3 separate regions of the Homo sapiens genome follow, and regions 2 and 3 are each linked to region 1. The links come from fine-mapping of genetic effects on gene expression. A gene starts in region 1. Each other region holds a variant in brackets. All regions are shown on one strand. Distances are between the middles of the regions.

The links. PIP is the estimated chance that this variant, and not a neighbour inherited with it, causes the effect.
Region 2: its variant is fine-mapped to the expression of PAN3 in whole blood (TOPMed, PIP 0.92).
Region 3: its variant is fine-mapped to the expression of PAN3 in whole blood (TOPMed, PIP above 0.99).

What each region holds. Positions count from the first base shown.
Region 1 is chr13:28,133,662-28,144,800 of GRCh38, reverse strand. It overlaps PAN3 (poly(A) specific ribonuclease subunit PAN3), which reads right to left and starts at 6,256. Exons shown (of 19, transcript NM_175854.8): 1 at 5,714-6,256. The coding sequence starts at 6,143. PAN3-AS1 (PAN3 antisense RNA 1) reads left to right here and starts at 5,627. Exons shown (of 2, transcript NR_029383.1): 1 at 5,627-6,254; 2 at 6,396-7,958. RefSeq lists enhancers at 1-149, 5,215-5,509 and silencers at 5,592-5,991, 6,032-6,111, 6,302-6,411.
Region 2 is chr13:28,291,776-28,302,914 of GRCh38, reverse strand. It overlaps PAN3 (poly(A) specific ribonuclease subunit PAN3), which reads right to left. Exons shown (of 19, transcript NM_175854.8): 19 at 7,580-10,533. The coding sequence ends at 10,393. FLT1 (fms related receptor tyrosine kinase 1) reads left to right here. Exons shown (of 30, transcript NM_002019.4): 30 at 1-2,569. Among named protein-coding and RNA genes, the nearest start is that of PAN3-AS1, 160 kb to the right of the region's middle. RefSeq lists a silencer at 6,443-6,601. The variant T/C (reference allele first, on the strand shown) is at 5,871.
Region 3 is chr13:28,279,779-28,290,917 of GRCh38, reverse strand. PAN3 (poly(A) specific ribonuclease subunit PAN3) reads right to left here. Exons shown (of 19, transcript NM_175854.8): 16 at 10,377-10,506; 17 at 9,539-9,603; 18 at 2,796-2,934. It overlaps LOC124903140 (a long non-coding RNA gene), which reads left to right and starts at 2,931. Exons shown (of 2, transcript XR_007063735.1): 1 at 2,931-8,563. RefSeq lists enhancers at 863-1,362, 1,363-1,864. The variant T/C (reference allele first, on the strand shown) is at 3,385.

The sequences.
Region 1 (11,139 bases):
TGCAGTGAGCCAAGATGGCGCCAGTGCACTCCATCCTGGGCTACAGAGTGAGGCTCTGAGGAAAAAAAAAAAAAAAAAAAAAGATGATGTTTTGGTTTGCTTTTGATAATCATTTATCTTCTTAAAGGGTCATTTCAAATGCACTTTCAGTCTATGATCATACCACTCTGAACACGCCCGATCTCATCAAATGCACTTTTACAGGAAAAAGTGCTTTATTTGTTAACTCAATCTCACCTGGAGTTACGTTATCCCTCGAGTTTTCCTCATAAAACTTATCGAAACCGGCCGGGCCCAGTGGCTCACGCCTGTAATCCCAGCACTTTGGGAGGCCGAGGCAGGTGGATCATGAGGTCAGGAGATTGAGACCATCCTGGCTAACACGGTGAAACCCCGTCTCTACTAAAAATACAAAAAAATTATCTGGGCGTGGTGGCGGGCGCCTGTAGTCCCAGCTACTCAGGAGGCTGAGGCAGGAATGGCGTGAACCCAGGAGGCGGAGCTCGCAGTGAGCCGAGACTGCGCCACTGCACTCCAGCCTGGGAGACAGAGCGAGACTCCATATCAAAAAAAAAAAAAAAAAAAAAAACAAAAAAACTTATCGAAACCAAGTATTACCTTATAGATATTTATAGCCCCACTAGAATGTAAACTCCATTAGGGCTGAATTATGTTTTTTTGTTGCTGTTGTTGTTCCTATCACCTTAATCAGAGCTTACCACCTTGGAAGCAGGATATTAAATGAGTGAAATGAACAGTATTATAAAGCCTTCATGATATACTAAGTATATTATTCCAATAAAAATGTTTAAACTTATGCCAGCTATCCTAACAGCAAATCGCCAGTACTCACTTCTCTGTCACTTAGTATAGGTTTGTGGGATGAAAAGGCTAGTCTTGGCTTAAACAAAAACAGCTTTGCCACACGCTACACATTACATATTCCAAAGCTAACATTTGAACTTCAAGTTATCCATGGCACTGCTCTCCTCCATTTGGACAATCACAATTCAATAATCTGTAGCTATTTTACTAGTCTTCAATGTATGCCCTCAAAAATTTGAAGAAGGAAATACAGAGGTTAACTATAGATTATTAATATTTAATAATAGCAATAACTAAGACTGAAACCTCAATATGTGCAGGCAATGCCATGCAATTTTCATAACATCTCCATTTTCCAGATGAGAAAAACTGAGGCTTAAAGGTTAAAAATTCGTTCAGTCACAAAGCTAGTCAAAGAGCCAGGATTCTATCTGAAACATGTCTTATTCACTAGTAACTACATTAGGAGAATTGAAAAGTGTATTTTGGTAAATTAAAACTACTGGGTTTCAAATAATGTACATAAAATACAAATATTGGCATATTTTACCTGTTAAAAATTGTACACTTTGAAGATTAAAGCCATTTTGAAAATCTAGCCAGTTGAAAATATTAGAATTACATCATTAAATGTCAAGAATCGATAATGCAGTTGAATACAAATCAAATCACTCTTAAGCCTTAGAAAAATCCCAAGACTAACAGAAATACGAAATGTTACGTAAGCTACATGGTACGGCATACCTGTAGTCCCAGCTACTCAGGAGGCTGAGGTGCTAGGATCACTTGAGCCCAGGAGTTGGAGTCCAACCTAGACAACACAGCAAGAACTCCCAACCCCCTCCTCAAAAAAAACAAAAACAAAAACAAAAACAAAAAATCAAATTGCAGTTTCCTTATAAGGTTGAAACATCATTGCAACTAAGTGTATTAAGAAAAAGCCTTTGTGCTTCAGTTTTCCAATGGCTGCAAAATAAAGATAAAGTTTTCTCATGCACCCACCTCCAAGGTTTTAACACTATCTGAAACACCAACAAAACAAAAACAATTCTGCAAATGTGAAGTGCTAAAGTTAGAGTCAAAACCTCAAATGCCTAGATATAAAAGTCATCCAGTTAGGGAATGAGTCAAAATGGAGAGAATTATGCTCTATCAACAGCTCTAATTCCAACACAGGTAAGAGACATCCTTAAAGGGAAACCAGAAATTTGTACTTCTATATTAAATCTTTTGTTTCTTTTGTTGTCAAATGATTCAATCAAAACCCACAAACATAGAAATTAAAAACACTAAATTATGGTATATATGGTGGCTCACAGGGTAGGCAGATCGCTTTGAGCCCAGAAGTTTGAGACCGGCCTGGGCAACATGGGGAAACCTCATCTCTACCAAAAATACAAAATAATTAGAGGTGCTTGGTAGCCAGTGCCTGTGGTCCCTGTCTCAAAAAAAAAAAAAAAAAAATTGCCATCTATTTTAACTGCCTCACACACATAATTAACCAATGAAGGCCAGATGTGGTAGCTCACACCTATAATCCCAGTACTTTGAGAAGTCAAGGCAGGAGATTGCTAGAGCCCAGGAGTTCGAAACCAGCCTGGACAACACAGCAAGACATCATCTCTTCAAAATAAAATAAACGGATCAATACTGTCTCAAAACACACTGAATGAGAATACAGTAAAAGGTAGAAAGCAGTCTAAAAAATGAACAATAAGTGTAAAAACTCAAAAAAGCCATACAATTACCAACACAACCTTTTTTCCTGATTCCTGAGCAACATTATTTCCCACTCCTTGGTATCTCTCAGTAATACCTAGGTTGTGATTCCTTATGAAGAAATCTCCATCCATAAGGAATTACTGAGAGATACCAAGAAGCCTATCACAGAAAAGAGGAGCCTTAGGCTTCAGCCAGACAAGCTAAAGCAAACACCACAGAATCTAAATACATAAATCAACTATTTAATCAGACAACTTTTACTAACAAGTGACAAAGTATTAATTTTAAAATACCTTTTCAGCATTAACTGCCTGTCCTCTCGAGTCCCTATATCTCAGTTATTTTCCTAAGATGTCCCACCTTTGAGCCACTGCTAATATTTTTTCCTCCACCTTAAGGGTACTTACCTTCCCCTCCCATCTTCATCTGCTTACATCCTGTCCTCTTTCAAGTCTCAGCCCTTCTACCTATTGTGTGTTAATTAGAAAATCCTCGGCCAGGTGCGGTGGCTCCCGCCAGTAATCCCTAGGAGGCCGAGGCAGGCGGATCACCTGAGATCAGGAGTTTGAGACCAGCCTGACCAACATGGAGAAACCCCGTGTCTACTAAAACTACAATATTAGCTGAGCGTGGTGGTGCCTGCCTGTAATCCCAGCTACTAGGGAGTCTGAGGCAGGAGAATCTCTTGAACCCGGGAGGCAGAGGTTGCGGTGAGCCGAGATCACTAGATTGCACTCCAGCCTCGTAAACAAGAGTGAAACTCCGTCTCAAAAAAAAAAAAAAAAAAAAAAGAAAAAAAGAAAAAGAAAATCCTAGAATGATCGTCAGAGCTGTCTGTCAGGAATAAGATTAATAGATAAATAAAACTTTAAAAGTTTTTTTTAAAAAGAGAATCCTAGAAAGATCACCTATGAAGTCTAACACCAGCATTTTAAAAAGTGCCTCTTTCTGGCCAGCACAGTGGCTCACACCTGTAATCCCAGCACTTTGGGAGGCCGAGGCGGGACGATCACCTGAGGTCAGGAGTTCGAGACCCACCTGGCCAACATGGCGAAACCCCGTCTCTACTAAAAATACAAAAATAAGCCGGTCGTGGTGGCGCATGCCTGTAAAACCCAGCTACTTGGGAGGCTGAGGCAGGAGAATTGCTTGAACCTGGGAGGTGGAGGTTGCTGTGAGCCGAGATCGCACCACTGCACTTCAGCCTGGACGACAAGCAAGCCTCCGTCTCAAAAAAAAAAAAAAAAAAAGTGTCTCTTTCTGTCAGTAAGAAAACTATTGTTCAGTGTCATTGGTTACTAATCAAACATTACTACTGAGTCACGACTCACACATCCAGCAAAACTTTAACCTGAAAATGCAAAGTTGATGCTCGAAAGTGATAAAATTCCACCCATAAGTAACCATTTGTTTTACAAAACATCTGAATTTACAAAATTAATTTTCTTAGCATTATCAGCCTTAGCAAATATATCTTCATTAAAGTCAAGCCCATCACAACAAATGAAACACTTCTATAAAAGAAAAAGAAAGAAGAGAGAAAGGAGAAAAGAACAGAACAGAACAACACTTGGCCCAGCATGGTGCCTCACTCCTGTAATCCCAGCACTTTGGGAGGCCCAGGCAGGAAGATCGCTTGAGCCCAGGAGTTCCAGGCCAGCTTGGGCAACATAGGAAGATCCCGTCTCGAAAGAAAAAGCAAGAAAGCAAAACCCCGGGGAAGATATTAAATAATCCTCATAGACCAATTAAATGCTAAAACTTCCTATCAGGTTCATTAACAGTGTTTAAGAAAAAGACAAAATGTTCTCATGTACAAATTGAACTGCCTATCAGATTATTTTAAGATCTAGTTCTCCAGAATTCCCAAGAAAGTAGGACTCCTATTTGGTTTAGAAACGCTCAATATACTAAGAAACAAAACAGGGACATCTGGCACCGGCTCTATTCGTAAAGGCAACATTCTCTAACAGATTACGCTCACATTCAATTGTAAACTCCACTAACAACTAACAAGCTTCAGGTCAATAGATAACAACACACTGAGAGGCTGAGGAGGACAGATCACTTGAGGCCAGCAGTTTGAGACCAGCCTGGCCAACACAACGAGACTACTATCTCAACTAAAACTACAAAAAATTATCTGGCCGTGGTGGCGCGCGCCTGTAGTCCCAGCTACTCCGTAGGCAGAGGCAACAGAATCGCTTGAACTCGGGAGGCGGAGGTTGCAGTGAGCTGAGATCGCGCAACTGCACTCCAGCCTGAGCGACAGGGCGAGACTCTCTCCAAAACAACAACAACAACAACAACAACAACACATGAAAAAGAAATATAAACAGCCTTAAGATGTCCCCACCCAAGTGCTCAGTCGCACATAAACGCAGGCTGCACATGACATGCATTCAAGACACAATGCTGAGTTTGCTTGATACAAAGCTATAGAAGACAGGATCCCAGCTGACACCAGCAAACTTATTCTAGCTTTCAGGGAAACTCAGATGAAATGCGTCTTTGTGAAATCCCTACTCTAAACTCTCGATTAAACCTGAGCACACTTTGAACGCGACAGTCCGCTCCCTCCTAATCCTTAGAAAGCATTTCCTGCCTGCAAAACCTTTCTCCCGCAAGCCTTCTACAAACTTTTTCCGTTCTTTCAACCTACTCCACGAAGCCTTAAGCCCGCCCCTCACCTCCCGCCCCCTACACACACACACACACACACACACACACACACACACAAACACACCCCTCCCCACTAGGGAACCTCAACACTCTGCAGACGCCACTCCACAAGGACACGCAAAACACATGTGCCTGCAAACCCAGCCCCTTTCCACACCCCCCGGAAACGACACCCCCTTTCTCACACTCCGCACGCCACAGCCCATCCCCCTTCCTCCCCGCCCCCCCTTCACATCACCCCAGTCCTCCCACCCACGTTCCCGGGAACCCAACCTCCCCGCGCTCTCCGACTTGCCGAAGGCAGTGGGGAGGGGAAGCAGGAAGAAGGAAGGAGGGCTCAGGCCCGGCCTAGGCCTCTCAGACCGCCTTGGGAGGTGAGGGGGGGAGCCCGCGGGCCGTGCTCAGCTCCCGTCGGCAGCAGGGCCTCATCCGGCCCAGGCCTGCCCTCCGCCGCCGCGGCCCGCCCCGCCCGAAAAACACTCACTTGCCAGCCGCGGTCCATCGAGTCCCCCGCTACTGCCTCCTCCGCCGGCTGCGGCTCCGGTCCCCGGGTCCCCCAGGTCCGGCTTCTTGGGCCCGGGGGGCGGCCCAGCTCCCCCGCCCGCGACGGCTCCCGGCGGAAAGCCGGCCACGGGTGCACCAGCCAGAGCCAGGGGGACGCTGTTGCTATGGAGGCCGAGGCCCGGGGCAGCCCCGGCGGCAGGGTCCTCATGCAGGAACTGACACTCCTCCCCGTAGAAGCAAGTCTTATCCTTAGCGTAGTAGCGGCAGTACTTCAGCTTCACTCCTACCGCCGCCCCGCCGGGGACACCCCCGACCCCCGGCGGGGCCACCACCGCCACCGCCGCCGCCAGCGAGGAGGAGGAAGGGGAGGCGGCGGCCGAGGGGGGCGGGAGGCCGCCGCCACTGTTCATGGCAACGCCGCAGCCTCGTCTTCCGCCGCCGCCCGAGGAGCCGCCGCCGCCACCACCATAGACGGGGGAGGAAAGGAAGACGCTGCCGGTGCCGGATAAAAGCCTGGGCGGGTGGGTCTGTCCCGCTGCGGGAGCCGGAGCCGCCCGGGGAGAAGGGGGAGGGGAGAGGGGAGGGAGGAGGGGGTAGAAGGAGGGAGGGTAGGGGGAGAGTTGGGATTCTCTCACTCACTCTCTCGTTCTCTTTTCTTAAAGGGGCCGCGCGGGACGACGGGGTGAGCGCGCGGGCCCAGACGGGGACTTCGAGGGCGCGGGCAGGGGAAGAGGGAGCGGCAGCGGCAAGCGGGTGGGGAAGGCGGAGGGGCCGGTTTATTTTTAAATTCTGCCTCCACTCGCTCTCTCGCGCTCTGGTTCCTCCGAGTTGTTTATTCCATTTTCCTCTTCCTGAGACGGCCGTCGCCGCTGCGCGTGCGCGCTGAGACGCGAGGGCTTATGGGTAGCGGGAGCGCTAGGGGAAGCCTGGCCGGCGTCGGGCCCCCGGGGGCATCCGCGAGCTATCGGCGGTTGGACCGGCGGCTCTCGGTGGGGTTCCGGACGCGGATCTGGCGCCGAATTCTCACGAGACCTGATACCTTCCTTATTTGTATATTCTCTTACTTAAAAAGCCAGATGTCTTTTTTTTTTTTTTCATTGAAAAGAGAAAATTGACAAGGTAAACGGTCGTTTGGAGGGGCCACCTGGGGACGCGGCCCGAGCCCTGGCTCTACCTGAAGAATATCTTCTATTTGCCACACTTCCTCTCCCCGTTTCCTTTCTTCGCCCCTCTCCTCTTTCCCCTTCCCCTCGAAGGTAATGAGAACTACTGGACCGATTACGCTAACCTCTTGGCCCTTTGTCAAAAAATGGAGCCAAAAAGGTTGATTTAGACAGACCCCCTGCTCAGTGCAGCACCTGTTATTCTCTGTATTTATATTACCAAGGGCCTTCGGTAAATTATGAAAAATAGGATGCCACCTGGGACAACACTGCTTAGACAGCACTGGAAGACCTTTATAAATATACTAGGTTGCTTTTCTCCAATCAGCCTAGCCTTGATTTGAAATTCATTTTTATTTTTTTTGAGACGGTGAAATTCATTTTTAAAAGATAGTTTTAACCTCAGCGATCTCTGATGTTTGCGCTAATACCCTTTTAAAGGCTTTCAGAAATTTTAAAGAATTGCTATGAAAGGAAAAGTAACATTCTAGTTTTTCTCTGTAAAAGAGGTTCACAAACGGCAGATCGCTGTTATGAAAAGGAGGGGTGGAAGTATTTAAGGAATTGTGGCAAACAAAGTCACAGAAGAATGGATATAAGCAAAAGTAGCACACTGAAAAAAATGGGGAAAAGTGGAGTCTAGATCACAAACTGGTAAGCTTGGTGATGTTCTCTAGCCAAATTCGAAGGTAATAACATTGTATTATGGCTTTCTGTTTAAAAGCAGTTTCGCTTATTTGATTATTCAACAAATCTTTATTAACACGCATTACGTGTACCAGAAACTGTGGTACACTTAACTGTGGAGCTGGGGAAGCAAAAGTGAACATGCCGCCTTAAGTGAGTTCAGATGGCTTATCTTCCGGTTGGGGAGGCATCAAGTACACAGGTCCGTTGTAAACCAGTGTCTTAAGTGCTAACCTTATCACATTTGCTATTAGAGGATATTAAACATGTCAGACTTCTTGGAGAAAGTTGATATTTTCATGTTCCAAGTTTGGGAACATCATTGAATTCAGACAGATCTGGATTGAAACAGATTAAAGTGCCTACACTTTAATAGCTGTGTTCCTCTCAGTTAATTGCTTCATTTCTCTGTGCCTTGTCTGTACACCTGGATTAAGAATAGTACCTACTTCATAAAGTATAACTAATAATGTATATAAACTGTCCCATGCCTAATAAGAATTCGGTAGGTTGTAACTATTATTAATAGTATTGGCCAGGCGCAGTGGCTCACGCCTGTAATCCCAGCACTTTGGGAGGCCAAGGCGGGTGGATCACCTGAGATCAGGAGTTCGAGACCAGTCTGGCCAACCTGGTAAAACACCGTCTCTACAAAAATACAAAAAAATTACTGGGCGTGGTGGCGAGCGCCTGTGATCCCAGCTACTGGGGAGGCTGAGACATAAGAATCACTTGAACCTGGGAAGCAGAGGTTGCAGTGAGCCGAGATCTCGTCATTGCACGCCAGCCTGGGCGACAGAGCGAGACTCCATCTCGAAAAAAAAGTAGTATTGCTGCTAGTGGTAGTCAGTGTATAGTCAAAGAGCATTCTAGGCAAACAGCTTTTATTGTTAGAATACAGTGATAGTGGAAAATGGAGCAGAGTCCACAAAAGTCCTTGTAGGGCCATGTTAAAGAATTGAACTTTTGGCCAGGCGCAGTGGCTCACGCCTGTAATCCCAGCACTTTGGGAGGCTGAGGCGAGCAGATCACGAGGTCAGGAGTTCAAGACCAGCCTGGCCAACATGGTGAAACCCCCGTCTCTGCTAAAAATACAAAAATTAGCTGGGTGTGGTAGCAGGCACCTGTAATCTCACCTACTCGGGAGGCTGAGACAGAAGAATTGCTTGAACCCGGGAGGCAGAGGTTGCAGTGAGATCGCACCACTGCACTCTAGCCTGGGCGACAGAGCAAGGCTCCATCTCAAAAAAAAAAAAAAGAATTGAACTTTTTCTTGAGGACAATTGGAAGTTATTACAGGGTTTTTAAAAGTCAACATGGCAGGGCACAGTGGCTCACACCTCTAACCTCACTGCTTTGGAAGGAAGCCAAGGCAAGAGGATCACTTGAGGCCGGGAGTTCAAGACCCTCTTGGGAAAACTAGCAAGACCCTGTCTATACAAAACAATTTAAAAATTAGCCAGGTGTAGAGGCACTTGCCTATAGTCCTAGCTACTGGGGAGGCTGAGGCAGAGGATCATTTGGGCTCAGGAGTTCCAGGATGCAGTGAGCTTTGAAGGCGCCATTTTATGCCAACCTGCACAGCAGTGAGACCCTCTCGGTCAATAAATAAAAAATAAACTTATTTGCCACACATTTCATATCTCCACACTTTTTTAGGAGACAACTACTTATTCCTATAGTAGGGTTGTCTTTTTAAGCAGGGTTCATTGTTGAGTATTCCTTTACTAAAAATAAATATGTAGTCAACTCTAAGTTATTTTCATGTTAATGAAGATTACATCCAAAACTGCAAATAATCCATAAATTATTCATAAAATGTATACTTGACCTCCAACAGCATTTCCCCAGCAACAGAGACTACATTGCTAAAGGGTAATGTTAATTTCTATTAAATGCTAATAATTGAGGCCAAGCGCATTGGCTCACACCTGTAATCCTAGCACTTTGGGAGGCGGAAGTGGGTGGATCACTTGAGGTAAGGAGTTTGAGACCAGCCTGACCAACGTGGTGAAACCCCGTCTCTACCAAAAATACAGAAAATTAGCTAGGCATGGTGGCAGGCACCTGTAATCCCAGCTTCTCGGGAGGCTGAGGCAGGAGAATTGCTTGAACCTGGGAGGCGGAGGTTACAGTGAGCCGAGATTGCGCCATTGCATTCCAGCCTGGGCAACAGAGCGAGACTTCATCTCAAAATTAATAATAATAAAGATTGAGAGGAAAACGTCACATTTTCTGAATGGTTAATTATTATATTAGTGATAGCAGCCTGAGTCTTAAAAATTCTCCCTTAAGGACAAGCATGTGGCTCACACTTATAATCCTAACACTTTAGGAGGTCAAGGCAGGAGAATCACTTGGCTCAGAAGTTCTGAGACCAGCCTAGGCAACATAGGGAAACACTGTCTCTACAAAAAAATTTAGCTGGGCATGGTGGCATTCTGTGGTCACAGCTACTTGGGAGGCTTAGGTGGGAGGATTGCTTGGGCCAGGAGGTCGAGGCTGCAGTGACAGCCTAGGTGACAGCAACCCTGGTGTCACCTGGTGAAAAAAAGGTGACCCTGTCTCAAAAAAAAATAAAAATTATCCCTTAAGATAGAGTGGAAACTGCATGTGGATAAATGAGAGTTGACTGTTTTTGAGTCCTAGAAATGAAATTTGCTGCATATGTATAAATACATTTCTTACATATTTGTAAAGTATGTTCCTTATGCACTAAGCTCTATAATTTTATACAAAGTTACTAGCAACTGCTTAATTTAATCTTGTTGACAAATTTTGGGTGCACTAGAAGCAAAAACCTTCCTATTTGTGGCAGTGATAAATAACTGATACATGACAGATTTTTTGGCCAGGCGCAGTGACCCACGCCTGTAATCCCAGCATTTTGGGAGTCCAAGGTAGGCGAATCACTTGAGGCCAGGGTTCCAGAACAGCCAGGCCAACATGGTGAAACCCCATCTCTACTAAAAATACAAAAGTTAGCCAGACGTGGTGGTGCAAGTGCCTGGTGCAAGTGCCTATAATCCCAGCTACTCGGGAGGCTGAGGCACGAGAATCACTTGAACCTGGGAGGCAGAGGTTGCAGTGAGCCAAGATCGTGCTACTGCACTCCAGCCTGGGTGACAGAGCAAGACTACGTCTCAAAAAAAAGATTTTTTAATGTATCTATGACCCTTTATAGAAGACATAGTCTTTCATCATTATCATCATACTTATGTACTGATATATACTACATAGGTTTTTTTAGTGTTTATGGCAGTAAAAGCAATTTGTTACCTTTCTATACAAGTTTTCAAAGGATTTCAAGATGCTCATATTTATTATATTCTTGTGAAATACATTAAAGGCAAATATGATTTTGAAATTAATTATATCTTGGAAATGGCCCTGACAATCTAGTATATCATTGGTATCATCCCATACAACTACCACCAGCCATATAGAAGTACCTTTAACTTAGCAAAACTCACTATTACCACTTCTGTTGGTTAAGCACCCCCTACTCCAGAAACTAATATTTGTATGTGAAATATGACCATTATAATCTTAAATC
Region 2 (11,139 bases), 160 kb before region 1:
CTAAACCCAATGACTTCCCTGCTCCAACCCCCGCCACCTCAGGGCACGCAGGACCAGTTTGATTGAGGAGCTGCACTGATCACCCAATGCATCACGTACCCCACTGGGCCAGCCCTGCAGCCCAAAACCCAGGGCAACAAGCCCGTTAGCCCCAGGGATCACTGGCTGGCCTGAGCAACATCTCGGGAGTCCTCTAGCAGGCCTAAGACATGTGAGGAGGAAAAGGAAAAAAAGCAAAAAGCAAGGGAGAAAAGAGAAACCGGGAGAAGGCATGAGAAAGAATTTGAGACGCACCATGTGGGCACGGAGGGGGACGGGGCTCAGCAATGCCATTTCAGTGGCTTCCCAGCTCTGACCCTTCTACATTTGAGGGCCCAGCCAGGAGCAGATGGACAGCGATGAGGGGACATTTTCTGGATTCTGGGAGGCAAGAAAAGGACAAATATCTTTTTTGGAACTAAAGCAAATTTTAGAACTTTACCTATGGAAGTGGTTCTATGTCCATTCTCATTCGTGGCATGTTTTGATTTGTAGCACTGAGGGTGGCACTCAACTCTGAGCCCATACTTTTGGCTCCTCTAGTAAGATGCACTGAAAACTTAGCCAGAGTTAGGTTGTCTCCAGGCCATGATGGCCTTACACTGAAAATGTCACATTCTATTTTGGGTATTAATATATAGTCCAGACACTTAACTCAATTTCTTGGTATTATTCTGTTTTGCACAGTTAGTTGTGAAAGAAAGCTGAGAAGAATGAAAATGCAGTCCTGAGGAGAGGAGTTTTCTCCATATCAAAACGAGGGCTGATGGAGGAAAAAGGTCAATAAGGTCAAGGGAAAACCCCGTCTCTATACCAACCAAACCAATTCACCAACACAGTTGGGACCCAAAACACAGGAAGTCAGTCACGTTTCCTTTTCATTTAATGGGGATTCCACTATCTCACACTAATCTGAAAGGATGTGGAAGAGCATTAGCTGGCGCATATTAAGCACTTTAAGCTCCTTGAGTAAAAAGGTGGTATGTAATTTATGCAAGGTATTTCTCCAGTTGGGACTCAGGATATTAGTTAATGAGCCATCACTAGAAGAAAAGCCCATTTTCAACTGCTTTGAAACTTGCCTGGGGTCTGAGCATGATGGGAATAGGGAGACAGGGTAGGAAAGGGCGCCTACTCTTCAGGGTCTAAAGATCAAGTGGGCCTTGGATCGCTAAGCTGGCTCTGTTTGATGCTATTTATGCAAGTTAGGGTCTATGTATTTATGATGTCTGCACCTTCTGCAGCCAGTCAGAAGCTGGAGAGGCAACAGTGGATTGCTGCTTCTTGGGGAGAAGAGTATGCTTCCTTTTATCCATGTAATTTAACTGTAGAACCTGAGCTCTAAGTAACCGAAGAATGTATGCCTCTGTTCTTATGTGCCACATCCTTGTTTAAAGGCTCTCTGTATGAAGAGATGGGACCGTCATCAGCACATTCCCTAGTGAGCCTACTGGCTCCTGGCAGCGGCTTTTGTGGAAGACTCACTAGCCAGAAGAGAGGAGTGGGACAGTCCTCTCCACCAAGATCTAAATCCAAACAAAAGCAGGCTAGAGCCAGAAGAGAGGACAAATCTTTGTTCTTCCTCTTCTTTACATACGCAAACCACCTGTGACAGCTGGCAATTTTATAAATCAGGTAACTGGAAGGAGGTTAAACACAGAAAAAAGAAGACCTCAGTCAATTCTCTACTTTTTTTTTTTTTTCCAAATCAGATAATAGCCCAGCAAATAGTGATAACAAATAAAACCTTAGCTATTCATGTCTTGATTTCAATAATTAATTCTTAATCATTAAGAGACCATAATAAATACTCCTTTTCAAGAGAAAAGCAAAACCATTAGAATTGTTACTCAGCTCCTTCAAACTCAGGTTTGTAGCATACATGAGTCCATCCATCAGTCAAAGAATGGTTCCATCTGGAGTCTTAATGTAGAAAGAAAAATGGAGACTTGTAATAATGAGCTAGTTACAAAGTGCTTGTTCATTAAAATAGCACTGAAAATTGAAACATGAATTAACTGATAATATTCCAATCATTTGCCATTTATGACAAAAATGGTTGGCACTAACAAAGAACGAGCACTTCCTTTCAGAGTTTCTGAGATAATGTACGTGGAACAGTCTGGGTGGAATGGGGCTGAAACCATGTGCAAGTCTGTGTCTTGTCAGTCCAAGAAGTGACACCGAGATGTTAATTTTAGGGACCCGTGCCTTGTTTCCTAGCCCACAAGAATGCAAACATCAAACAGATACTCGCTAGCCTCATTTAAATTGATTAAAGGAGGAGTGCATCTTTGGCCGACAGTGGTGTAACTGTATGTGTGTGTGTGTGTGTGTGTGTGTGTGTGTGTGTGGGTGTATGTGTGTTTTGTGCATAACTATTTAAGGAAACTGGAATTTTAAAGTTACTTTTATACAAACCAAGAATATATGCTACAGATATAAGACAGACATGGTTTGGTCCTATATTTCTAGTCATGATGAATGTATTTTGTATACCATCTTCATATAATAAACTTCCAAAAACACATATATTTTCTCCCTGATTTGCTTGTTAAGTGTAAAAAAGAGGTCACAGGTGTCCCTGGGGGTGGAGGACTAGTGCTCTTTATTAAACACAGCACAAGAAAGATAAAGCAAATGCTGCTGAAGAGAGGGCAAAGAGGTTTCTATCGGTCCTAGAAAATGGCTGTGCTAAACAATCAGAACACTGCAACCAGTAAGTAAAAAACAAAATCAAACTAGGCAGATTGCCCAGAAAACTAAACCCTAACATCAACAGGATCATGAAACAAGTAAAGCATATGCTGGGTGTGAGTGCCAGCCGCAGAGAAAAGTGCCCTCAATTAAAAAGAGGCAGTTGTCCCCAAACACTAATTTTCAGCTGATAAATAATTAGCATAATCACAGAGGGTGTGTACACATGCTGCAGAAAACCACACAAAATAATAGGCAAAAGCTTGAAACCCAAGAATGTAAAAGTACACATGCCAGCTCTGTATTCTTCAATCTTGTTTTGTGGATTATGTCCTAGGAAAACAACTCAGGTCACTAAGTACTAGAAATTGAATAAGTGACCAACACTTTGTCTTAGAAATTGGTCATAGTATTACCCGCCTAATATCATCATAAGGAAACTAGATTGGAAAGATATTTTAAGGGGAAAAAATAGGCCTACTTTCTTTGGGACAAAGACAATAAAAATGGATAAATGACAAATCTCAGTACACTTTTAGTTAACTCAAGAGGGCAAGAGGCATTTTGTCTTCAAGAATCTGAAATCCTTTAAAAAGTATTATGGGTTTCATAACATAAGAATAAAATCATTCATTCAGGCAAATGACTTGAAGAATGCTTGAGGAATCAATGTCACGTCAGTTTAGAAATGTTCTCATGGCTCTGGAAACTTATAGTACATTTGGGAATTAATTTTTATTCTTTCCTCCAGCAGAAGTATGGCCTAGTAAGGTTTATTGGACTCCTCAGTGTTAAACATATTACCAGACTTTTGGGTTTCACAGGCCAGGAAATTAAAAAAAAAAATCCTTGATCCCAACACAGGGATGGCCATTCTTCTATTCTGCGAGCTAAGAACACTTGAGGGAGGGGGAAAAAAAAAACCCAAAATCCAACCAGATGCTACTAATGTTCTATTTCCTGATCCGGGTGGTAGTGCATAGGTATGCTCACCTTATGATGAGTCACTGAGCTGCACACTTACTTGTGAATGTGTGTGTATATATATGAATGTATGTACACAATTCTTCAATGCAATATTACTAAAAGAAGAAAAAAACCCCTGCCATTTAGTACCACTACTTTTCATAGGAGAAAACCCATTTTAAAAGGTGGAAGGGCTTAATCTCAGACTAAAATATATTTGTTTTGAAACATACCTATATTATCCTTCTTTTTCCCATTTTCATTTGTACTAGAATAAACTAATGAACACATGTTGTTCCACAGATTGGTATTTGGGAAGCAGTGATAGCTAGTAATTGCTATCATTGCTATCATTTGAGTACCCAATATGTGCCAGCAACTATTTAAAGTGCTTTAAAGGAACACACTTATTTTCAAGGCAATCTAACATGATAGGTACTATTAGTATATCCTTTACTTCAATGGGAAAATTAAAGAACTCCAAGACCCCACTTGTCACATCTCCCCACCTCCAAGCTTATGTCCCCATATACTGTGCTTGCCCTTCTAGACAGCCAACCCAAAACACACTGGTGTCCCTCTGAGACTTGAATTGCTTTAGCAATTCTCCACCGCCCCCCACCATCAATTTTCCCCTTTTCCACTGGAACATACATGTTATTTCTCCCATCTTACAAAATTTTCATCTGTACTTTCTCCTCCAGCTACCACCCAATTTCTCTATTTCCCTTTACAGCAAAATCCCATGAGCGAGTTGGTTATTAGTTATTATTACTTGTTTCCAACTCCTCTCCTCCCACTCACTCTTAAACCCACTCAAGCCTAGCTTTCACGATCACTCACTGAAACTGCTTTTGCTAAGGTCACCAGTGACTCCATATTGATAAATCCAATGGCTAACTCTCAGTCCCATTCTTATTTGACACTTCAGCAGCTTGACACTTATTCGCAAAAACAACTTCAGTTTGGTTCCAGGACATGATACTTTCTTCTTCCCATCTCATAGGCTACCTGTCTCTTTTGCTGGTTTTACCTCTTTTCCCTGACTTTTGAACATTGCTCTAGTTACCCCAGGGCTTGCCCTTGAAGCTTTCTTTTCTCAGTCTATACCAACTTCCTTCATGATCTCAACCAATCTCAGGGCTTTCAATGACACCCATATGATGACTTTCATGGACAGAAGAGATTCTTCCTGCCCGCTGCAACACTCTAAACTCATATATACACAAGTGCTAACCTGACATCTCCCCTTGATGCTCTAGCAGACTGTATTTTTTTCAAATACAGGTGTATTTTTCAAAGATATTGTACTGTATTTTTCAAAAATATTCTATTTTTCAAAGACAGCTGCAAGATTATCTCCCATCTCACACGACCTTTGGCACACGACCTTTGGCAATGTCCCCTCCCCTAGAATCAGAGCTAGCTTTAGGACTCACTTGTGATCAATGCAATGTGAAAGAAGGGACACTGCATGGCTTGGAGGCCAGGTCAGAAAAGATCATGCACTTCCTGAGTCTTGGTACACTCACTCTTCAACAGTTCCCGCCAGGGACCCAGCAGCCATACTTGGAGAAACCTAAGCCACATGGAGGCCATGTGAAGGTGCTCCCATAGACAGCAGCCAGCTGAGTCCAGCCCGCAAGTCACTCCAGCCCCCATCCATTGGAATTTCCCAGCGGAGGCCCAATCACAATGGCATAGAGACAAGCCTCCCTGCTGTGTCTTGCCCAGATTCCTGACCCACAGAATCCTTGAATGTAATAAAATGCTTGTTTTATGCCATTAAGGGTGGAGTTGTTACAAAGCAAATAACCAGAACAAATGTGTACTAAACATCTCAAACTTAATGGGCCTTAGACCAAACTCCCAAATTGTCTTTTCCTGTTTCTCCATCCTCCCCTGCCCTGTAGACTCTTTGTTCTTACAACAGTCTCTTCCAATTCAGCAGAATCCTCTATCCTGTGAGCATCAAGCCAAAGGAAATATTTTTTGAGACAGGGTCTTACTTTGTCGCTCAGGCTGGAGTGCAATGGCTCCATCTCGGTGCACTGCAGCCTTGACCTCCTGGGCTCAATCAATCCTCCCACCTCAGCCCCCTGAGTAGCTGGGGCTACAGGTGCGTGACACCATGCCTGGCTGATTTTACTTTTTGTAGAGACAAGGTC[T/C]CACTATGTTGCCCAGGCCTGTCTCAAAACTCTGGGCTCCGGTGATCTGCGCACCTTGGCCTCCCAAGTGTCGGGATTACAGGCATGAACCACTGCACCTGGCCAGCAAGCCAAAATCTTAAGAGTCATTCCTGACTTCTCTCTTCTTTGTCCGCATCCAGTGAATCAGGACATCCCTGATGGCTCTACCTTTAAAACCTTATTTGAAGTCCAGCCACTCTGCACCACCTCTACTGCTACCACCCTAGTCCAGGTGTTTTTTTTTTTTTTTTTTTTTTGACAGTCTCGCTCTTGTCAGACCAGCTCTGTTGGCCAGGCTGGTCTTGGAACTCCTGACTTCAGGTGATCCACTTGCCTCGGCCTCCCAAAGTGCCGGGGTTACAGCTGTGAGACACCGTGCTCAGTCGCAGGTGGGTTTTAAAACTCAAAGATGGCTGGGCGCTTTGGCTCATGCCTGTAATCCCAGCACTTTCAGAGGCCAAGACAGGCAGATCACCTGAGGTCAGGAGTTTGAGACCAGCCTGGCCAACATGGTGAAACCCCGTATCTACAAAAAATATAAAAATTAGCCAGGTATGGTGACGGATGCCTGTAATCCCAGCTACTCGGGAGGCTGAGGCAGGAGAATCGCTTGAACCCAGGAGGCAGAGGTTGCAGTGAGCCAAGATCGTGCCACTGCACTCCAGCCTGGACGATGGAGTGAGACTCCGTCTCAAACAAAACAAAAAAACCCAACAAAACTCAAAAGACATGGGTTTTAAAATCCAACATCCTTCACTTGGGATGCTGTCAGTTTCCCACCATGTCAACAGCTCACTTCCTCCCTCAGTCTGTTCACGTCGTAGCCAGAGTGATCCTTTTTAAATGTCTTATCATGTTACTCTTCTGCTGAAAATCCTCCTGCAGCTTCCTTTTTCTTTTGAGACAGAGTCTTGCTCTGATGCTCAGGCTGGAGTACAGTGGTGCGATCTAGGCTCACTGCAAGCTCTGCCTCCTGGGTTCACGCCATTCTCCTTCCTCAGCCTCCCGAGTAGCTGGGACTACAGGCGCCTGCCACCACGCCTGGATAATTTTTTTATTTTTGATAGAGAGGGGGTTTCAACATGTTAGCCAGGATGGTCTCGATCTCCTGACCTCGTGATCTGCCCACCTCAGCCTCCCAAAGTGCTGGGATTACAGGCGTGAGCCACTGCGCCCGGCACGGCTTCCTCTTTTGAGGGTAAAAGCCAAAATACTTAAAATGGTCCACAGGACACACCCCTTCCCTATAGACCTTTCTGACGTCACTTCCTACTTAACTTGGCTCTAGCCACATTCGCTCCCCTGCTGTTCCGCAAAGGCTCTGAAACATTCCCTTACCTGGAATACTTTACCACCAGACATACACATGGCAGACCCCTTATGCTTTCTCGTGAGTAGTCTTCTCTCCTAAACTACATTGTTAGTCATGTATTGTATTAAGATGTTTGGGTATAACTATACATTCTGTAAATACCAAGTCCCTGTATCTGTCTTAGTGCCTAGAACAGATCCAAGGACACAGTAGATAAGACTTAAGGACTACCTGATAAATTAATGAATAAATCTGCTGCCATTTCATCCAAATACAAAAATTCCTCCAAAATACAGAGGAAATAACCAATCTTTTAAAATCCAATCATAAGATAATCATCATCTTGTTATATGAACACGTGCAAGAAAAGGACAAATTTATCTCTGTAATTCTTTATTAAAAATACTGCTGTACACATAGAGACTGAAAACAGGATTAAAGATGAATAACACAAATTGGGTCATGACATTAGAACCTAACACACTGGTGCTTTTTAGGGAAGTTGTTGACATCCAAATCACAGAACCAAGGTCAAAAGCAAAATACAAAGGTACCCTCAAAAATATTTACAATGAAGTAAATACACTAACAGAATTTAAAACAGGTACAAAATATTGAAATGACCAACGTTACATGATTTCAAGGGTTGTCCTTTCTGTGCTTTTATCTGTCACGACAGGAAGGTGTGGAAAGTTTATATCCTTAATTTGACTACTCTTGGATATTAAAATCTTTCTATTAATTAAAAAGACTTTTAGACAACCTCTTAAATGGAATTACACTATGGAAAACAGGGCTCCCCCAAAAACACCTAGGCAGAACTGAGAGTTCTTTGAAAACCATTCCCAATAAAAACTAAATGAAAAATAAATATAAAACAAAGCTTAAAAAAATATGCATTACCTGACACCAACCTTTTCTGGCTGACAATATTTATTCATGAAAACATATCAGCTGTCTACCTTTTATATGCAAACCAAGTCCTGAGGTTAACTAGGGGCTGAAGCAAACTAGCATTTAGGATGCAAACATTCTTGGATTTGTGATGTAAACTTGCCTTGCACAGGGAAGTTTGCTGGTCTATACAGAATGAGAAATTCAAGCCCTATTTTAACCCCTGCCCTCTTTAGCTTTCACAAAACATTGGTCCACAAATTAAATTTTCAAAAAGTTCCCAGACCCCAAAACTAAAATAGATGATCCCCTTTCATTTTCAAAGAAAACAATATTGGAAAAAATCTCCAGCCCGCTTATAAATTAAGCATTTCATATTTCTTCTAGAATACAAGTAGTTCTTTTTTGTACAAAAGAATACAATATGATTTGTCAAAAAACATATAAAAAGACAGCTGCTCTTCCTCAAATACATGAGCTAATGATAAAAGACTTTTTCATGTTAATGTCTCCAAGTTCTTCTTTTTACATAAAAAAGAACATTATGGTGGCAAATGTGAATTATCCTTTTAATATTGAACATTATATTCTTTTAAAATCCATCCAGATCAAATGCAATAATTTTCTTTTTAACTCAACAACTGATGCTACCAAACGTGGACTCAATATACTTGTTAAAACGTGTAAAGCGTGTCTCTAGTCTTCAAAGCTTTCAGGTGAAGAGAGGTGCTTTTTCTTGATGCAAATCTCAAGGCAGAGAAAATCATTTTAAAGCTTATAAAAAGTGGACAGAGAAATATTAAAAACTTCTCTGAAATATACAAATATGTGTAATTATTAAAATTGAAGACAGTAACATCAGTTGCAAGTGCTTGGAAGTCTGTCCTGACCTTTTGAGTTTCCACATTTTCTTCAGTTGCATGGTGAGCACCCAGTGCTAGTAAAACATTCAGTGCTGGGAAAGGAGATATAGTCTTCATTACTGTTTTTTAAGAAAGAAAATTCCTATGTATTTGGCAGTCTTCAGTATCAAAGTATAGGTATTTCATTTACTAGAAATTCCATGAATACCCAAGTTTGGCGACAACTGCATGTCCAAATATTAAGAAAGTTAAGAGGAGGAAAATCCCAAACTTTTGAGATGGACTTATTCAGGAATATCGCACAGAGTGAGTTATTATCAAAAGTACTATTACTTTGGGCTAAGCAGTGACTGCAAAGGCACAGCAGATCGTTATCCCTCCAAATTCAGGCTGTAAAACATCAGAAAGCTCTTGATACCAGACCACTGCTGAGTTTAGTTCATCTTCTGAACAGTGTCTCTGTGTCTGTCTCCAGTGTAAAGGACCATAATAAAGCTGTGGTTCAAAGAGCAAAACTTCATAAACCTCCCCCCCGCCCAAAAAAAAAAAAAAAAAAAAAAAAAAAAACCAGCAAACTGGAAAGAACCTAAAGTAATACACTCCTGAACTTTAGGCCTTTAACACAATTTCTTAATTTTCTCCTATTTAAAAAATTTGCATAAATGTAAATGTATCTGACTAGCAGGCAAATGTCTTTTTAAAAAGGCTCTAGTTGAATTTGAAGGAAAGAGCTATACATGCTCCTTCAGTTACTGTTTATCTGATCTTTATTCAGAAAGGATTTAAATCAACTAACAGGGAATTCATATCCAACAATTCACTGGTATTTTCTTGGTATGTTCTTAAGAACAAAACAAAACAAAAATCTCAATTTGAACTAACAGTGGGTGGCATACAGAGAGCTTGCATACGATACTCTTACAAGAATTACGTACTATACTGAACTTCTATGAAATTATTTACCTGGTCCGTAATGTTATTCAGGGCAACCCATCCCAAAAAGAGCAAATTCTGCAACCCTCAATGGCAAAAACGCTGCCCAGCATTGCTTCCCAAAAATGTCCTTGCAAAGTTTCCCATTATAAGTATACAATGTGGCAAAAGTTCAAAGATCAGAAAAAGTCTTTAAAAAATTAAAATTAGTGCATATACAAGTGGAAAAAACAAAAGCAGGAACATCATTCACCTGATGGTGCTCCTAAATCTAAAATAAATTCTTCACAGATAACAGCCTCCAATGGCAGCCATAGCTCTTGGGTAAGTGAAACATTCTTCCTTTCAAGTAACAGTGTACCTGACTGAAGTGCAAGCAGCTTTGCTCATCTCCTGTTCGTTTCCCAAATGTGAATGAGATGATGAAAAGTTCAGCTGTAGTGCAATTTGCTATTGGTTAAGGTCTTTAGCCATGTCCTGCGTGCTTTTTTAGCAAATACTACAACTGACCATTTGCAGCTGCAATCAGTTCTTGAAAAGTATTTTCAAAGCAGCGCTTTAAGTCACTGTAGGTCACCACAAGTACACTCTTCTCATCTCTGGAAATCAGGCTTATTTTTTCTGGCACACCAGCATCTAGCTGAAACAATATATACACAAAATATGAAATTCATAACATGCAGAAAAGAATTTATCTACGTTTGCAGCAAAAATAAATAAAATATCTAAATTTTTTTTGTCACATTCCCTTTCAGATATCCATGAGTACATTTATATCATTCATCAGTATGCACATAATTTTCGACTCAGACATTTTTACACAAACACTGCCCTATGTTTCTATCCCTTCACGCTTAACGTTTGTTTGTATTATAGTTTACCCAGTTGATGCTCCATAATTTTTCTCCCAGTATCTTCCATTTTTGGCATAATAAATTACAGTGCAATGAACATACTCATCTACTTAATTTTTTTCTTCTGTGGGAAGTACTTTTTCCTTAGGAAAAATACTTAGAAGTATAAATATTAATAATAAAATGTAAAGTATTAAGAAATTGGTTTTTAAAAAATTTTAAAAAAACACAAAAAAGTAAAGTAGAAGTGGTTTTATAGCTTAGTACATAGAACCAAATTGTTTTCCAATCAGACACCATGAATTTATAAGTTTTTATTTTTATTTATTTAATTTTTGGGGATGGAGTTTCGCTCGTTGCCCAGGGTGGAGTGCAATGGCGCAATCTTGGCT
Region 3 (11,139 bases), 150 kb before region 1:
AACTGTCCATGGCTTATTCCATATTACCTACTTGTCAATGTTTGTTCTGGTTCTACGTATTTTTAACTACTGGTACTCTGATACTATGCTCTAAAATCTGACAGAATTATTTTCTACATATTGCTCTCAAGAAAAGGTTTTTCCCCTAACATAAATAAAGGGAAAATAAATATATAACTCATACTGAATTAGTTCAATGATACATATAGTCTTGTGCAGTCTTTTTTCTTTTTTTGATACAGAGTTTTGCTCTTGTTGCCCAGGCTGGAGTACAATGGCACAATCTCGGCTCACTGCAACCTCTGCCTCCTGGGGTTCAAATGATTCTCCTGCCTCAGCCTCCGAAGTAGCTGGGATTACAGGCATGTACCACCACGCCCGGCTAATTTTGTATTTTTAGTAGAGATGGGGTTTCTCCACATTGGCCAGGCTGGTCTCAAACTCCCGACCTCAGGTGATCCGTGCACCTGGGCCTCCCAAAGTGCTGGGATTACAGGCGTGAGACACCGAGCCTGGCCAGTTTTGTGCAGTCTTAATGTAGGTTATTGACAATACTCCTTATAGAGTTTTAAGGAAGTTAAAGGAAGGCAAAGTAGTGCTTAAAAACAAACCGTAACATTTTCCCTGAAAGGTTACCACACTGTACATTAATAGTTCTAAATCATGTGCTACAGTAGATATTTTTTCCTCTAGTACTTATAATTTAGGAAAGTTTAGACCAAGAGTCAGTAAATGTTTTCTATAAAGGGTCAGACGGTAAATGTTTTAGGTTTGGCTTATTGTTTATTTTACAACTCTTTAAAAATGTAAAACTATTCGAGGCTCTCACGCTTTAAAAAAATAGGCCATAGAACGGATTTGGCCTGCAGGCCATGGCTTACCAGCTCCTGGTTTATACATAAACCTATACAGAGACTACATTTACTCCTGGAGACCAGTTCTAAACTTCATAATGCCAAGTAATTCATAAGGGAACTGTCTTCTTTCTTTTCTCTGTAAATTTTGTCTTTCCCAATCTTTTCTTTCTTTTTTTTTTGAGACGGAGTCTCGCTCTATCGGCCAGACTGGAGTGCAGTGGCCCAATCTCGGCTCACTGCAAACTCCGCCTCCCGGGTTCACGCCATTCTCCTGTCTCAGCCTCCCGAGTAGCTGGGACTACTGGTGCCTGTCACCATGCCCGGCTAACTTTTTTAATTTTTTAGTAGGGACGGGGTTTCACCGTGTTAGCCAGGATGGTCTCGATCTCCTGACCTCGTGATCCGCCCGCCGTGGCCTCCCAAAGTGCTGGGATTACAGGCGCGAGCTACTGCGCCTAGCCTTTTCCCAACCTTTTCTAAAACATAATGCTGCTGGGCGTGGTGGCTCACGGCTATTATCCCAACACTTTGGGGGTGGGTGGACTGCTTAATCTCAGGAGTTTGGGACCAGCCTGAGCAACATGGTGAAATCCCGTATCGACCAAAAGGACAAAAATTAGCTGGGTGTGGTGGCGTGTGCCTGTGGTCCCAGCTATTCAGGAGACTGAGGTGGGAAGGAGGACCACTGCAGCCCTGGGGAGTCAAGGCTGCAGTGAGCCATAAGTGCGACTGCACTATAGCCTGGGTGACAGATCAAAACCCCGTTCCAAAAAAAAGCTCACCTCACCTCTCAAATAAATTTATGATCTATTTTTTATCTACTTAATTCATCTAATCATCAAATTCACCATTTATAACAGCTGGACCTGCTAGTAACTGATGTCACTAGTATTGTGCTTTTATTATTTACTACTTGATTATAAAACCTAGAGTTAGGCCGGGTGCGGTGGCTCATGCCTGTAATCCCAGCACTTTGGGAGGCTGAGGCGGGTGGATCACGAGGTCAGGAGATCGAGACCATCCTGGCTAACATGGTGAAATCCTGTCTCTACTAAAAATACAAAAAATTAGCCGGGCATGGTGGTGGGTGCCTGTAGTCCCAGCTACTTGGGAGGCTGAGGCAGGAGAATGGCGTGAACCCGGGAGGCGGAGCTTGCAGTGAGCCTAGATGGCGCCACTGCACTCCAGCCTGGGTGACAGAGACTCCGTCTCAAAAAAAAAAAAAAAAAAAATCTATAGTTAATAATGATTTGATAACACCCAACATAACTCACAATGATTCGGAAGGGGTTCAATTTTTAAAAAATAAACACAAAATTATTTTTTTGCTTTTTACCATTCACTGTTTTAAGCGGCATAACAAAACCACATGTAAATAAAACATTGCATAAAGGAGGGAAGCAGTCATTTTGTGATACTTTATCATAATAAAAAGATCCACAATAAAACATTCTAAAATTATTCATGAAGGCCAGGCGCAGTGGCTCACGCCTATAATCCTACCACTTTGGGAGGCTGAGGCAGGCGAATCACTTGAAGTGAGGAGTTCGAGACCAGCCTGGCCAACATGGTGAAACCTTGTCGCTACTAAAGATTAGCTGCGCATGGTGATGGGTGCCTGTAATCCTAGCTACTCGGGAGGCTCAGGCAGGAGAATCACTTGAACCCGGGAGGCAGAGGTTGCAGTGAGCCAAAATCAGGCCACTGCACTCCAGCCTGGGCAACAGAGCAAGACTCTGTCCTCCACTGCCCCAAAAAATTATTCATGCAAGTATTGTAAAAATCCTCCCATTGTAGAAAATGTTATTAATAAAACGTCTTACAGGCTACTTTAAGAGTACATCCTGATTTCTTAAGTTTCCTAGTATTTGTAGAAGATACAACTCTATACAAATTATAGGCAGAATTATGATCTTAAAAAATCTAGATACAAATTACCTTGTTAAGACAAGAAATTATATGACTGAGGTCAATCCAGGGAGCACCTGCTTCTGTCACCTGATGAAAAAGATGATCCCTAAAGAGTTTCAACAGATAACGGTCTCCAGTCTCTGACCAAGTGGGATCCTTCTGAAACCTGGGGGAAATGAACATTTTACCTCAGTAACTCATGCTGTATGGTCTGTGGCCATATGTCTATTTTTTAGACTCCAAACTAGTTTTACTTTTTCCCAATAAACAAAAAATTGGGAGGGAGTCTGGTACAGTGTTTTTAAAAAATAATCTAACTGAACTAGTAAGTCTATGAATTCCAGTTTTCAGTTAGCAAATGTCAGGGGGAAATCATCCCTTATGCATTCCTATTTTACATTACCTCCTTATTTCAGCCCCTACCATTAGATAAAATGGAAAAGGTAAAAATATCTTTAAATATCTTCTCTTCTCTTCCTCCCACTCTGTAGGTTACAGAATAGAGAAAGGTCAGGTACATCTTCTACTTCACCAATAAGCATAAAATAGAAAAATGTTTAGGAAACAAAAAGGAAGTAAATATCGGTTTCCTACCATTCCATGTGAAAACAAGCTG[T/C]GAAGAACCAGATGACCACTGTGAGTTTTCAGTGACCTTAGGAACTTACAGTCTAGTAGGAAACAGACGTTATTCAAATAATCAAAGAAAGCTGTAACTGCATATTTACATAATGCTCCTAAAAGGAATATGATATAAAACGAAGATGAATTTATCTAGGGCCGCGCCTGGCTGATAATCCCTTTTCTGTATCATTTAAAGTCGTTCTGCTTCCCAGATCAAACTGTGATACAATTCCCATTAAGAAAAAATAGGTAAAAACAATGATTACAGAAAATGTATAACATTAAATTTATGTAAAATTATGTGTGAATATAAGTATATAAAGCAATTAAGGAAGGTTTTCCAGAGGAAGTAGTGGCTGCTCTTCCCAGAAGAAGGATGCTCCTTCGTCAGAGATCGGTATTTGCATGGACATTGAAGAAACTTAAGGAAGGTCATGTGTCTGAATGGGTTGGGGGAGAAAAGAGAAGAAAAGACGACAGAATACACGGAGAGGGAGGGTAAGGGCAAGGAAAAGGAACAGAGTGAAGACAAGAACAAAGAATGGGGGATGGGGGGAAGAAAATTAAATAAAAGGCAGATTTGACGCCAGGATGAGAAGTAGGTAGGGATCAGACTACACAGCTTAGGACATGTTTTAAAACTGGGTCTTTATTCTAAGAACCAGAGGAGAAGTTCACCATATGGTTTTAGCACAATCATATATGTATGTTTGCAAAGGTCACTCCAAGGACTTCCAATTAAAATGAAGATTAAACACCCATTTATCTCTGCTCCCTTTCAACAGCCCATCAAATTGACAGTAAATACCTAAAAAAGGGTATAAACACAAGGACAAAGGGATCAGAAAAAGCAACAATAGTGAACAAGAGATAATCATGAACATCTGGAATGCAGAGGCAGATAGGTAAGTGGGATGACTTAGTAGACCTGACAAAACTGAACCCTAATTCTACAAGGGATGTGGGAAGAGGGTGCCCACAGGAATCAAGCAACCCACACTGGCGTAGCTCAGAAACTGAAGCCACAAAGGACTACTAAAAGTGCAAGTTTGGACTGAGGCTGAAAACAGGAGAACTGAGAAAAGGTTCTATAAACAGCAAACAGATAACCCATCTCTCAACCCCACTGCCACCTGTCTGGCAAAAATCTGGAGGTTTTACTTTCTAAAAAGGGTGAAAGAGAGAAGCTTGAGCCTCAGGGATGCCAAGCAAACCAGAAGATGAAGAGCTGAGGAGTGCTGGATGACACCCTATTCAACAAATGCTTTCCCTCTGTGTGGTTCCCAAACCCTGGCTGTCAGGCTTATACCACAGACAGTAGAGGTTGGAAGATTCTTTTCAGGGGATGCTGACCTGTCCAAGACAAATGATAATCCTTGACAGTCTATCAAAAACAAACAAAAATCATGTATAACAACATCACACTGCTTTATCACAGAGAAAGGTTCAACATTCTATAATCCCTGCCCTCACAAAGGCTTCCCATTGGCTTTTTAGGACCTTATTTTTAATACAAATGGACAGCTAAGTATCAGAAATCTTTTGTTACAAAACAAAACAAAATAAAGCAAACTCTTGTTTCCTATGAGATACTGCAGGGAATGGAACAAAACTTAAAACTAAGACAAACAAAAACCAACCACCAGCAAAAATCTATTAACTGACGGCCTCAGAGAAACAAGAATTAGATGGTACAAGACAAACATTCAGAAAACAGAATTGTTCTTGGAAAATAAAAATATGATAGCAGAAATTTAAAAATTCAAAGAATTAGAAAAAAAACTTTAATTTTAGAAAAATGCAGTTGAGATAACTGCCCAGAAAGTAGAACAAAAAAAATTAGAGATAGAAAATAGAAGAGAATATTTGAAAATCAATTGCAAAGGTCTAACATCTGAGCGATGAGAATTCCAGGACAAGAAGTTATTAAAGAAACAATGAAGACCATGTCCCAGAACTGAAGGACGTTAAGTTTCCAAGATTAAAGGGGTTCACCTGTTAATCCATCATTATGACTCAAAACCTACACCAAGGAACATCACTGTGAATTTCTGAACATCAGTGACTAAACAAACAAACAAACAAACAAACAAAACCCAAAAGCTTGGAGGAAGGAAAGGATTTATAAAGAAAATGCCTTTGAATCTGCCTGGAAGTTAAAAGGAACAATGCTTCAAATTCTGAACTATCATCACTAGTACTTACCTATGTACTGAAAGTACCCGCTAACACAACCACTCAAGAGAAATTAAAAGTATAGAAACTGGGAAGGAAACTATCATTATTTGCAGATAACACCTGGGAAACTCAAAGAGAATTTACTGAAAACGACCCAAACAATAAGGTACCAGAGCATAAAATTTAAAGAAATCAAGAATTCTCATATATACCAGTAACAAGAAGACAGAATGGGGGAAATTTTCCCACTTATAATAGCAACAAGATGAAATACCTAAGAATACACTCAGTATTGCTATAACTATATAAAGAACAACTTAAATACTACTGAAGAATACAAAAGTAGACATCAACAAATAGAATGACATACCATGATCTTGGTTACGATGACTCAACATCTAAAATCACAAATGTTCCCAGAGTTTAAACACGATAAATATGCTATCTTCCCTATGAAGAAACCATCAGGTTTATTGATTTTTTTTTAACTAAAGAAGCTGATTCTAGAATTTGTACAGAAAATTTAATAGTATTAGGAAAACAACAAAGTGGTGCCCAATGAAATGGAGATGGGAAAGAATACTGCTAGATTTCAAAATTCAATTTCATGATTGAATTAAAATAGTATGGAAGAGGTGTGGCTTCAAAAACCAGTGGGGAAAAGCTAGATTGTTCGACTATTCAATAAACAGCTTTTGGACTACTAGGTAGTCTTGGGGACAAGGGGAGATGGACTTACACCTTACACCCTATACAATTTCTAACCACATAAAACATTTTTAATATGAAGAAATGAAACCACAAATGTTCTGGAAAAAACCATGAAATAGTTCCTTCATAATCTTGGAGTAGAAAGAGGCTTTCTAACTATGATTCAAAATCCAGAAGCAAAGAAGAAATTTGGTCAGTTACAGACATATACAAATGTCTCCAAGGGTGGGGAATGAGCAGTCAAAAAAAAAAAAAAAATCACAAAAAGAGTGAATCTCTTTAGCTCTTATATATCAATAAGAAAGACAAGCAATCCAATTGAAAATAAAAATGGGCAAAGGATATGAATTGAACAGGACATAAGAATGGATCAATAGCATAAAACAGACCCTCAAACATGCTTGTTAAGAGTACATAGAACATAAAACTGCATTTAAATTCAATTTTTCACCTACAAGGTTGACAAAAATCTAAGAGTTTGAAAAAAGTATTTTGGTGAGGCAGTCTCACGAATTACACACATGGGTAAACTATTCTCCAATAGCTATGAAATTATAGTGGCACACCTACTGACCTAGCAATCACAATTGGCCTATATTTACATATATATAAGATTAAGTATGCACAAGTTAGTCCCTACAGTACCGCCCACCCTAGCAAAGGACTGAAAACAGCCCAAATGCCCACCTATAGGGAACTGGGGAATAAACTATAACACATCCATAGGATAAACTACTACCAGGCCATTAAAGTATGAGGAGACACATAGCATAGTGGTTAGGAGCACACACTCTGGAACCATACTGTCTAGACTGGAGTCCTGGATCATATACTTATTAATTACGCAACCTTTGTTCAAGTTATTTAACCTCTCTATGCTGCAATTACTCTGTTAAATAGGAATAACAATGGTAACTCCATCATAGGGTTGTTATGAGGAATAAGTCAGGTCATATTTGTAAACTATTTTGAATAGTGCTTGGCATATACTAAACATATCTAAATAGAAAGATTTCTAAAACACGCTGTTATGATAAAATATACTGTGTATGGTTTACAATTTTTATATATTTAAAGGGGGAGGGGATAAGAATATATAGTTGTATTTGTAACTCTGGAATAATACAGAAGAAACTAAAAATATAGACTGATGGGGGAAACTGGGAATAGATATTGGGGATGTCAGGTATGAAAGAGAGACTTTTACAGTTTTCACTGCAAACTTTTCCTACTTTTTACTTTATTCATAGACAACCTATTTAAAAAATTTAATTAATAAGAATAATTTCCTGGCTGGGCACAGTGACTCATGCCTGTAATCCTAGCACTTTGGAAGGCTGAGGCAGGTGGATCACCTGAGGTCAGGAGTTCGAGACCAGCTTGGACAACATGGTGAAACCCTGTCTCTACCAAAAATACAAAAATTAGCTGGGCATGGTGGCATGCGCCTGTAATCCCAGCTACACTGGAAGCTGAGGCAGGAGAATCGCTTGATCCTGGGAGGCGAGGGTTGCAGAGAGCCAAGAATGCGCCATTGCACTCCAGCCTGGGGGATAGAGCGAGATTCCCTCTCAAAAAAAAAAAGGAAAAATTTTCTGAGGACAATCTAGAATTTAGTATGCATTCACAGTATCAATAATGTGTGAAAGTAGAATAATGCCATTTTCAAACTTGCAAGACTAAAAAAACTCACCTTTTTCAGGAAGCTACAAGGACATGCTCCATTAAGTCAAAATAAATAAATAAATAAATAAATAAACAAACCAAGGAATAAAGCAAGAAAACAGGGTATCCAACACAGAGAGATAATGAGAATTCCCAGATAATACTGAAGGGAAGTTCCAGTTCTAAAGTGTAAGCACGTGCAGGCTTAAAGCATAACCAGCCCAGATAGGAACAGGAAGTGCAGAGGATCCAGAGCCAATTCTCTAGGTGGGAGGGAAAAAAAGGAACTGATAGGTTACCTATTTTTGACCGCATGGGAGAGGTGTTTTGTAACACTAAATACAGATTCAACTCATGTGTGCATGTGTGTGTGCACGTGCGTGCACGTGTGTAGGGAAGAGGATGAGTCATTAGCTGAATTATATATTGGGGGAATCAAGAATAGAACTATAAGCAGACATTTTAAAGTAAAGAGATAAATGCTAGAAGAAACAGCTAAAAGTTTATTAAAAATGGTTTAACATATATTGTTATGTTCTCTTCACTTAGAAAAATTATTAGGGAAGACACTAAATGAGTCTTTCGACTTTGAAGAAAAGCAAGTGGACTTGAATTCCATGGTAAAAAAAAAAAACAACCCCTCAAGTAATAGTATTTATCTCTCACCTATCTCTATTAACAAATCAAACATTCCTGAAATGTAACTTACGTATATAGTCATAGTAATTGCAAATTCTGTTCTACCTGTCTTTGACAGTTATGTAGTACAAACATCGACTCTGCTTATGTATATATGGTTAACATTAACTTACAAATGAGGTGGAACTAAGTGACAAATAGTGTAAAAGGTAATGCCTTTCCAATGTCACTTATATGATGGCTATAAAAAGTATACTTTAGGCCAGGCGTGGTGGCTCATGCCTGTAATCCCAGCACTTTGGGAGGCCAAGGCAGGTGGATCACCTGAAGTCAGGAGTTCAAGACCAGACCACCCTGGCCAACATGGTGAAACCCTATCTCCACTAAAAATACAAAAATTAGCTGGGTATGGTGGTGCACACCTGTAGTCCCAGCTACTTGGGAGGCTGAAGCAGGAGAATCGCTTGAACCTGGGAGGCAGAGGTTGCAGTCAGCCGAGATTGTGCCACTGCACTCCAGCCTGGCGACAGAGGGAGACTCCGTCTCAAGAAAAAAAAAAAAAAAAAAAAGTGTGCTTTAATAGAAGGTAAGAGGCATGCAAAAATTAGAGATTTCTCAAGTCTCTAAACTGACCAGGGTAAACTTACATGAAACTTCTTCCTCAAAAAGAAGATAGGGTAGAGGTAGTATTAGTCATAAAATGTGCCCTCATGTGCAAACCACAAGAGATTTCTAACACACCATATTTTCTGTGTGTATACATGTGTGTAAAATTCGTAAGGACAGCCACACCTAGGCTGTTGTTAAAAATAGCACCTTAACAGCTAACACAATCTTAAGGTCACTTCACATGAGAATTTTTCTCTTTTTCCAAATAAAGCCAGGCATACTTATTCTTATTATGCAAAATAGTGCTCTCGATTAAAAATATATTGTAAAATACTGTAAATCCTTACTCCGGCCTCTCATTGATTGTTCCCAATTTTGCTAGGAGCCTAAACAGTCTTCCATTTTGAACCTCCTATAAAACATTTTAAAAAGAGAAAAATGTTAATGTTCCAGATAACTGAACATAAAAGCCAAAATTTACAAAAACTGGTAACCTGTACCAATATTACCTTTAAACAATAAATCCTAACATCCCCACCTTTTGGTTATACTTTTAAACAAACACAATATGTCCATTTCATTTCATAATGGTACTCAAGAAGATTATGGAGCTGTCCATAGGAATTGGAAAAGTAACTCACATGAAAAACCAAGATTTTTGTCACATGACTGTAGCAAAGCCATGAATGAAAAGAACAGTGTTGTCCAGAGGACATAAGAAATTAAAATACCAAACATTCAGTGCCGACAAAAATATCTGAAATCTTAGCAAATAAGGCATTATATTTAGTACAATGATTATTTTGTGTCTATTTATATACACAGATGCAAGTTGTGTGTACATTCTTTTAATTACACTCTTTACTGGCCAGGTGCAATGGCTCACGCCTGTAATCCCAGCACTTTGGGAGGCTGAGGCGGGCGGATCACTTGAGCTCAGGAGCTCAAGACCAGCCTGGCCAACATGGTGAAACCCCGTCTCTACTAACAATACAAAAATAGCGGGGTGTGGTGGCGTACACCTGTAATCCCAGCTACTTGGGAGGCTGAGGCAGGAGACTCGCTTGAACCCAGGAGGCAGAGGTTACAGTAAGCCGAGATAGCACCACTGCACTCCAGCCTGGGTGACAAAGCAAGACTCTGTCTCAAAAAAAAAAAAAAAAAAAAAAAATTTACACTCTTTACCTTTGCAAGGTCTTCCTCTATGACATCATTTCTCATTTGAGCAGCATCCAATTGAGTATAAAATCGAGCACCAATCATGGGCATGATGTCATTTACACTTCGCATCCTGTTTTGGTCAGTCAACAAATACCTACCCAAGATAAAAGAGGAATTACTTGGATGTCCAACATGCAATTTAAAAAACAAGATAACCCAAACATAGCTGTTTTGGCTGCCGTCATCTTAGCACACAAAATTTTGAAAACATTTTAATTCATGCAAGTCAAGTTCATTCTTAAATATTACATTTCATTCCTCTGGAAAACTGTAACAGCCAATGGAGAAACAGTAAACATGTCTCTTCTCTACATTTTCACTACTATGGAAATGAGAAAGAAAAGTGAAGTAGGACTGCACTTACCCATTTCCATTCTCAAACCCTTCTTTACAATAGTGCTAGATGAAAAGATTGTTACAGGCCAGGTGCAGTGGTTCACACTTGTAATCCCAGCACTTTGGGAGGCCGAGGCAGGTGGATCACTTTAAGACCAGCCTGGCCAACACGGTGAAACCCCGTCTCTACTAAAAATACAAAATTAGCTGGGCATGGTGGCGGGCACCTGTAGTCCCAGCTACTCAGGAGGCTGAGGCAGGAGAATAGCTTGAACCCAGGAGACAGAGGCTGCAGTGAGCTGAGATGGCACCACTGCACTCCAGCCTGGGCAACAAAGTGAAACTCCATCTCAAAAAAAAGGAAACAAACAAAAAACAAAAATAAATTAAT